2 separate regions of the Homo sapiens genome follow, and region 2 is linked to region 1. Evidence: fine-mapped expression QTL. A gene starts in region 1. The other region holds a variant in brackets. All regions are shown on one strand. Distances are between the middles of the regions. Region 1 holds the start of LINC02288 (long intergenic non-protein coding RNA 2288). Region 2 overlaps LINC02288 (long intergenic non-protein coding RNA 2288).

Evidence for each region. PIP is the estimated chance that this variant, and not a neighbour inherited with it, causes the effect.
Region 2: its variant is the best candidate, but not a certain one, in a credible set for the expression of LINC02288 in whole blood (TOPMed, PIP 0.54).

The regions. Positions count from the first base shown.
Region 1 is chr14:77,039,057-77,043,442 of GRCh38, reverse strand. It overlaps LINC02288 (long intergenic non-protein coding RNA 2288), which reads right to left and starts at 2,394. Exons shown (of 4, transcript NR_110554.1): 1 at 2,166-2,394. RefSeq lists enhancers at 2,692-2,781, 1-2,915, 2,191-2,922 and a silencer at 3,032-3,221.
Region 2 is chr14:77,048,455-77,052,840 of GRCh38, reverse strand. All of the region lies in intron 1 of LINC02288 (long intergenic non-protein coding RNA 2288), which reads right to left. Among named protein-coding and RNA genes, the nearest start is that of LINC02288, 9.6 kb to the right of the region's middle. The variant T/G (reference allele first, on the strand shown) is at 1,794.

The DNA.
Region 1 (4,386 bases):
AAGATAGTTTTTTTTTTTTTTTTCCCAGCAGTACTTTGGTGGGGTTAAAATTAGCTGGCAGCATTCTGGTCACATGCTAGACAACAAAACAAAAGGGAGTTGTTCCCCCTGCCGCTCCTGAACTGGCCCACGACAGAGTTTCCTAATCCATGGATTTCTGGGAAGCTGGCTCTCCGGGCCCTGGTATGGAGGGGCTACACCAAGGACTCCCCTCCGGTTATCATCCCTGCTATAATGGGGCGACACAGACGAGGTCAAGGCTGTTTGGAATCTTGGAGCTTGCCTCGATCTGGAAAGGCACTCAAGGGTCCAAAATGGCTTTTGTAAATCTTCTCACCAAAGCCAACAAAGAAGCAAACACTACAAAAACACTGAGAGAGAGAAGGGTAACATCTGACACATGAACATGGGCATCCATTGACTTGTGGGGTGGTGGCTGCTCTTGGCATGATTAAAAAAAAAATAGCCGGGTGTGGTGGCTCATGCCTGTAATCCCAGAAACTTTGGGAAGCTGAGGAGGGCAGATCGCCTGAGGTCAGGAGTTCGAGACCAGCCCGGCCAACATGGCAAAACCCTGTCTCTACTAAAAATACAAAAAAAGTAGCCAGGCATGATAGCACGTGCCTGTAATCCCAGCTACTCGGGAGGCTGAGGCAAGAGAATTGCTTGAACCCGGGAGGCGGAGGTTGCAGTGAGCTGAGACTGCCCCACTGCACTCCAGCCTGGGCGACAGAGGAAGACACCGCCTCAAAAAACAAAACAAAACAAAAATAAATAAATATAATACATCTGGGCTAGAGGTGGCGAACATTTAGGATAGATTCTGTATCTCTTGACCTTGATGACAGGGACATGTCAGGGTCTGCTTTGTTCATCCAGCTTAAAACTGTCACCAGAAGCCCTGGATAAAAATGCAGCCTCTGATTCACACACGGTCAGGAAACATGCCTTGTGCTCAGTACAGAAACATGTCCGTCAACCTGGGAAAGGAATCACCACCACGAAATATGCTTTTGGCTTGCCAAAGCTTAGCAGCTGTGAGAGCCAAAAACCCAGCTGCCTGGACTGTCTGGGGAAGTTGGCGGGAGGGAGGGGGGGTTGCTTTCTGAATCACCTGATTTCTGCCTCTAACTCTAGTTTAATTCCAAGTCGAAACCTATCTTGAAATGTCTCAAGAGCCTACTGCTCCTAAAAATTGTAGGTTTTAGCTAACCCTTCAGCTCTGTGCCTGCTGGCAAGGTGAAGCAGATGGCGTTTGTTGATTATTTATTTGGAAGGGGCTACTTTGGAATCAGGAAATTCCAGCGAGACAGAGTGCATCGCCTTGGCCAGAGCTGCCGTGACAATCACGAGCAGACACCCAGAGACAGTCAAGTTCAAAGAAATTGCAGCTAAGCCCCAGGAACTTGGGGCATTTTCAGTCTTTCTCGTCTCCTGGCCTCCATGTTCACCATGCACTTAGGAAGAAATGTTTCGTTCAGTTCAACATTCTGTGGTCTTCAAGTGTTTGAATACAAGGGCCCACATTCAAGGTCCCGCTTTGTCAAAAGGGCTTCACGAAGCTAACAGGCCTCTGACTTGTGTTTCATCCTGAAGCCCCTCATTATACAGACAGATCAAAACAGAAATCCCCCCTGCCTTAATGCCCAGCACATAAAGTCCTCTTTAATTAACATACACCATTTTTCAGTGAAACAGCCTCAAGGTGTTAAAAGTGCATAAAGGTCTGAAAGCTGAAGCCCAAGATAAACAGTGTGCCGAAATATATTTAGCAGAAAATATTGAAAGCCACAGGAAAAATAAGTTCCCTTCCTGGGATGTTAACGAATGTTTAGGTTCAGGAAACCTTCAGGAAGTAGCGAGCCGAGAAGGAATACTGCTCACCGTTTTTACCCCCAATGTAAATAAATCACTAAACCTCTTTGGTTTCCATAGGCCTGGGCTGGAGTGGAATATTTCATTTTTTCCCCATTAAACAGGCCACCCGGAGTGTTGGCATTACAGGCCTGAAAATATACCAAATCTGAATGTGCTATTTTGTTTCTGTACATTAAATCAGACTGTGTTTCAAACGGCAGTTCGTGCTAAATGGGGGGCTGATGATCCAGACTGTGCACCCTCACACACCTGAAATTGGCGCAGCGTAAATGATAGATCTGTTTCACCTTGGATCTCCCCGTGTCTTGTCTCCTACAGGAACACACCCTCTGTCGTTGTTGCCCAAGGTGATGTCATGTTCATTCTAAAGGCCGCGGTTCCAAGGGGACTACACCACAAGAAGATGCCTTCAGAAAGACCCAGATTTCCTGCGGTCTCAGGTAGGCGGCAGGGAGCAAGAGAACAAGGAAAGGACCCGCCACCACTCTCCCCAAGATGGATGCTGCATGATGTAAGTGGCTGGCTAAAATATCTGGCATCCTTGCAGTTTTAAGTTGCCAGCTAAATATTATTAAAAAGATAAAATACACGCAAACTGTGCAGAATGCAGGGCTGCTGTGTTTACATCCGGGTTTTGATGACTCAAAGACTTACACTTGAGCTTGCTGAAAAGCCTCTATTAAAAATACCGCTTTGTGAAAGCCCCCAGGGAGCAGGAAGAAAGCTGGGGGTGTGAAAGAGGAGAGCGGGAGGATGGTGACCCACCCAAGGACGGCGCTGACACCTGTGCTCCGGGCTGGCACTTAAGGCCAAGGAAGTGCTTAGAGGTTAACCTCCTCTCACCCTCGGAACCAGAGCGGGGAGGGTTAACCTTTTTCCAGAACATTTATTTCACCATCTCACTGACTAGAGGGAGGAGGGGCGGGAGGGGGAGAACGAGAGCCTGCCGCGCAGAGAGGCTGCGGATCACAAGGCCATTCTGATAGCCTCCTGTCCCCATGGCAACTGCAACGGCATTTATCAGTTCCTTCTGCGCACAGGCACAGCAAATCTGCATTGCACATGGCAGGCTTCCAGCATTTCAAATGAAAGAGCACTTTGAACGGCTGCCAAGTTTGGAAGGAGCAGAACTGTCAGGGCTGCTTAAAGCTGGCAGTTTATACTGGGGAGGTTTTCGCTTCCCACAATTCTCCGGGCCTGGCGAGCCGCCAAGTACTTAGCGGAAGCTAAAAAGTAACTCGCTCCCCTCCCTCCCCTCCCCTCCCCCTGCTCACGCTCCCCCTCCACACTATTCACCGCAGTGCTCTCAAAATTTTCCACATGTCCTGTGTCACCAGTGCAGACTGTACAATGAAAACCAGAACGCCGGCTGCCCACGACCAGGCTTTTATTAATAAATAACGGAGGGAGGAGGAGGAGGGGTTGGGATCAGACACTGACAGCTGGGGCACCGGGTCTCCGCGTACCTGCCAAAACCCCATAACCACTGGGTGTGAATGCGTGTGGTGTGTGTGCCTTTCAGCCTTAAAAATACATTAATAAAAATAAAAATAAAGGGAGCCTCAGAGCTGTAGACACCCTGAGTACCAGGGGAGGAGGGGTGGGTTTCGGTTGGATGGTTTGGCGCTTTATTTAGGGTGGGAATGGAGGTCTTGCAGGCAGCGTTGTTCAGATCCAGCCTTTCTAAGATCTGTAGGGAAGAGGGTTGTTATTGAGAGCTAAGCCTGTTTCTGGAGCTTTCCTTGAATCTCTCAGATGTCATGGTGAAAGCTGTGAGGCCACAGATGGGGAGGGAGTTCGGAGATGCTTTTCAATGCAAAGTTTACCAGATAACTTCTGACCGTCACGCACAGCCCAGAGCACAAGGGCTTCTATGGGCAGAAAGTGGAAATTGGCATAGTATTCACTGTACTTTTTTTTTTTTTTTAATGAAAATCTACACTGAGATCAAGGGCTTGGGCTTTATTTTCCAGCACAAATAGAATGAAAATTGTCTGCCGCTTAGGCGGTTGGATAGAGTTCAGGAAAACTATGTCTGGCATTAATTCCAAAGTGGAGGTTTTGGTTCAAACGAGGCCCATTAATTTCAGTAAACTGTTTTCACTAGTCCAGACCCTGCTGTGCAAGGACTATTTATTACCTTTTGCTAACCTGATGTCTGCAGAGTTGTAAAGCAAAGGGGGAAAAATCCAGGGTGAAGATATCTATATTTTGCATCAAATGGGTTTTGCACTTCCCTTGGGGGGCCGTGTTTTATGGGGAGTTTTCTATCCTTGGCTTTTATCAGTGCCAATTTTTTAAAAAAAAACTCCATCTTGCAATGAATTAGAAAAAAAAAAATCCTGAAGGAGAGGAGCCTGGTGAGAGCAAATACCCATCTCCTGCCTCTTTCAGAAGGGCACCTCCCAGACACAGGGATGTTTCGTGTCCCTGTCTTCAGCTCCCAGGCTGCAGGTCCACTGCAAAGCCCTGACATGATTCACCCTGACGATCGGGTCTAAAATACAC
Region 2 (4,386 bases), 9.4 kb before region 1:
GTCAATTCCAGACACCTGGCACACACTGGGGAGTGTCCTGGGTGGTGTTGGTGGTGGTGGGAGGAGAGAAGGCTTCCTAGCATGTCACAGTAGGGCCAACTAGCCCACCCTCTTTGCCATTTTACATGCAAGGAAACTGGCCCAAAGGGGAGGCCCCTGGCCCAGGGGCTTGTCACGGCAGAGCCAGGGCTGGAACCCAGCTCTCTGGATTGCCAGTCTTTCTTCAGGCGCTAGCAGATCATGTTCTCTGAGGCCTGGAATTGCCTCCTTCCTCACATCCACCTCTCTCCCCACCCCTGCCATGTGCCATGAGCAATCCTGCCCATGCTGCCCTAGGCCCGGCTCCCTGCCCCTCTTCCGGGGAGCCTTTGCCATCCTGAGTTAGAACCACTTGTTCTCTTTAGTCTGTAGCAAGTGTGTCTGTCTGTTCCTGGGTGACTCGCCCCATCTCCGCAGCTGATCTCTGAAACAAGTGCCAAGGGGTAGGACAGTACAATGGACGAGGCACTGGGCTTGACTTTGAACCTGAGTGGGCCTCCAACTTGCTGTGTGACTGAGGGAGGTCATTTCACCTCTCTGGGCTTCTATATCCCCCCCTGGTCTGGGTCAGGGTTGTTTGGATGTTATCCATGGAGTCTCTGACTCAAGGCAGAGTGGACAGGACCCTATCCCTGCCCTAGATTAAACTGCAGCAGTCTTTTTTTCTTTCTTAAATACTTGGGCTTTGGAGTTCTGAGGCACCCAAGTTTAAAGGCCATTCTGAGGTCCTTTCTACTCTGATCTTGCTCTCGGTATCTCTCACCCCACCCCACCATTAGCCAGGAGGAATATGGCATCTTACATAAAGTATTCTCAATAAAGATTTGGTGAACAGACTTGAGCGTCAGTGGCCAGGCGCGGTGACTTATGCCTGTAATCCCAGCACTTTGGGAGGCTGAGGTGGGTGGATCACCTGAGGTCGGGAGTTTGAGACCAGCCTGGCCAACATGGTGAAACCCCGTCTCTACTAAAATTATAAAATTAGCCGGGCGTGGTGGTGCATGCCTGTAGTCCCAGCTACTTGGGAGGCTGAGGCAGGAGAATCACTTGAACCCGGGAGGCAGAGGTTGCAGTGAGATGAGATCACGCCACTTCACTCCAGCCTGGGCGAAAGAGCGAAACTCTGTTGCCAAAAAAAAAAAAAAAAAAAAAAAAGAATTGAGCATCGAAGCAGGGCTGTGCTGAACCCAGCTCAACAGGGGAGGGGCAAGCAGGAAAGGAGACCCTGGAACAAGCTTCTAAGGTGAAGGCGGCCTTTGAGAAGGCAGCTGAGGCTGCCTTGAGTTTGTGGCTTCTGCTCCCCATCTCTTCCACGTTCCTTCCTGACTCGTCCCTGAAGTGAGCCACCGCCTCTCCCACGCCCTGCTGTGGGTGCCACAATGTCCTTGCACAAACCCTGCCCTGTCCCCTGCTGCCAGGGCCGCCCACACAGCTGGACGGACATGAGTCTGGCAGACACTGGTGTGGCTGAGCTCTCCTGGAACGAGGTTCGAAAGGGCTGTGGGGCTGGCAGGGAGCAACACTCCATGGCCTGGTCAGCTGGCCAAAAGCCAGGCAGCCCCCAGAGGCAGCCCCACCCGAGCTGGAGAGGTCTGCTGGGCTTCTCTGGGTCTCTCAGGGAGGACGGACTTGGTGTGCTTTTGGCAAGTCAAAGGCCCTGCTTTACGTTGTGTGGGTATGATGGTTCTGCTTTCAAATCTTGGCTCCTCCTGGAGCTACAAATTATACGCTAAAGTCTGGGCTCAGTGGTTCAT[T/G]CCTGTAATCCCAGCACTTTGGGAGGATGAGGAGGGTGGATCACTTGAGGCCAGGAGTTCGAGACCAGCCTGGCCAACATAGCAAAATCTCGTCTCTACTAAAAATACAAAAATTAGCCGGATGGTGTCACACGCCTGTAATCCCAGATACTTGGGAGTCTGAGGCACAACATCGCTTGAGCCTGGGAGGTGGAAGTTGCAGTGAGCAGAGATCGTGCCACTACACTCCAGCCTGAGTGACAGAGCAAGACTCTGTCTCAAAAAAAAAAAAAAAAAAAAAAAAGTACACTCTTGCCTTTATCCTGTAGCAGGGCTTCCATGCCCCAGGGTAATTAAGGACCACCCTAATTGTACAAGCGTGGCCACTTACAATTAGAAAAGCCTGTATATGCAATGTCTAATTCTGAGCCGGGTAAGAAAAGGCATTAGAAGTAAAAAGGAGAACCATTGTTACAGCCCCAAGAAGTTCCATTAGGACATTTACTAACATAATGTTTGAATTTCATCGTCATTGTCATCTTCATCGTTCTAGCACCCACCCACTTCTGAACTGCTCTAACCTTTATTACCATCTGCCATGTTCTCTGGACCACTCTTCATAGTCATTCGTGCATTCATCCCAGAACATCTCAGCAGGAGAGTCTTCAATCTTTGAGAACCTACTATGTGCCAGACCCTGTCAGGCACTTTTTCAATTTTTTTTTTTTTTTTTTTAGACAGAGTTTTCCTCTTGTTGCCCAGGCTGGAGTGCAATGGCGTGGTCTCTGCTCACTGCAACCTCTGCCTCCCAGGTTCAAGTGATTCTCCTGCCTCAGCCTCCCAAGTAGCTGGGATTACTGGTGCCCATCAGCATGCCCAGCTAATTTTTATATTTTTAGTAGAGACGGGGTTTCACCATGTTGGCCAGGCTGGCCTAGAACTCCCGACCTCAGGTGATCCACCCGCCTCAGCCTCCCAAAGTGCTGGGATTATAGGCATGAGCTACCTCGCCTGGCCAATTTTACTTTATTTAGTCATCACAGCAACCCTGCGAAGTTGATTGTTAGGATGCTTTTGGCTGCAAGTCACAGAAACCTTGGTTCCACTGGATCGAGCCAGGGGTCCCTCACTGAACAATGAAGGAATTGATGGAAATAGTCCAGATGTGGGTGGCTCCAGGGCAGAGTAATCCAGCTGCTGAACTGTGCCACCAGACTAATGTTCTTTCCACATTTCCTTCCATTCTATCATCTCTCTTTTTTTTTTTTTTTTTTTTTTTTTTTTTTGAGACGGAGTCTCGCTCTGTTGCCTACGTTGGAGTGCAGTAGCGCGATCTCCGCTCACTGCAAGCTCCGCCTTCCGGGTTCACGCCATTCTCCTGCCTCGGCCTCAGCTGGGACTACAGGGGCCCGCCACCATGCCCGGCTAATTTTTTGTATTTTTAGTAGAGACGGGGTTTCACCATGTTAGCCAGGATGGTCTCGATATCCTGACCTCGTGATCTGCCCACCTCGGCCTCCCAAAGTGCTGGGATTACAGGCGTGAGCCACCGCACCCGGCCTCCATTCTATCATCTTTAGTGTGTTGACTTAGTTCTCTGAATGGCTGCCTTCATCATAGCAAGATGGCTGCTGTAGCCCCAGCCATCATCACTGCAGACACACATACAGCTACAGAAAGACAATTGTTTGGCTGGGCGCGGTGGCTCATGCCTGTAATCCCACCATTTTGGGAGGCCGAGGTGGGTGGATTACCTGAGGTCGGGAATTCGAGACCAGCCTGGCCAACATGGTAAAACCCTGTCTCTACTAAAAATACAAAAATTAGCTGGGCATGGTGGCAGGCGCCTGTAATCCCAGCTACTTGGGAGGCTGAGGCAGAAGAATCGCTTGAGCCCCAGAGGTGGAGGTTGCAGTGAGCTGAGATCCCGCCACTTCACTCCAGCCTGGGTGACAGAGTGAGACTGTGTCTCAAAAAAAAAAAAAAAAAAAAAAAAAAAAAAAGAAAGAAAGACAATTGTTTCTCTCTCTCTCATGTTTTAAGATTGAGAAAATATGGCCAGGCGCGGTGGCTCACGCCTGTAATCCCAGCACTTTGGGAGGCCGAAGCGGGCGGATCACGAGGTCAGCAGATCGAGACCATCCTGGCTAACACGGCGAAACACCGTCTCTACTAAAAATACAAAAAATTAGCCGGGCGTGGTGGCGGGCGCCTGTCGTCCCAGCTACTCGGGAGGCTGAGGCAGGAGAACCGCGTGAACCCGGGAGGCAGTGCTTGCAGTGAGCGGAGATCGCGCCACTGCACTCCAGCCTGGGCGGCAGAGCAAGACTCCGTCTCAAAAAAAAAAAAAAAGAAAAAAAAAAAAAGATTGAGAAAATATGAAAATATTTCCTAAAACAAGCCCCCAACTCCCATGTCTTATTCACCAGAACTCGGTCACAGATCCATCCCCAAAGTGTTAGCAAGGGGGATGGGATGCTAAGATTAGCTCAGACTAATTGGGATTTCCCCCCAAGGCACGTGGAACTGAGGGGTGTGGGACTCCTGAAACAAATTCAGGGCACTAAGGAAGAAAGCAGGAGTGACTACTTTTTAGCAATCAACAGTGTCTGCC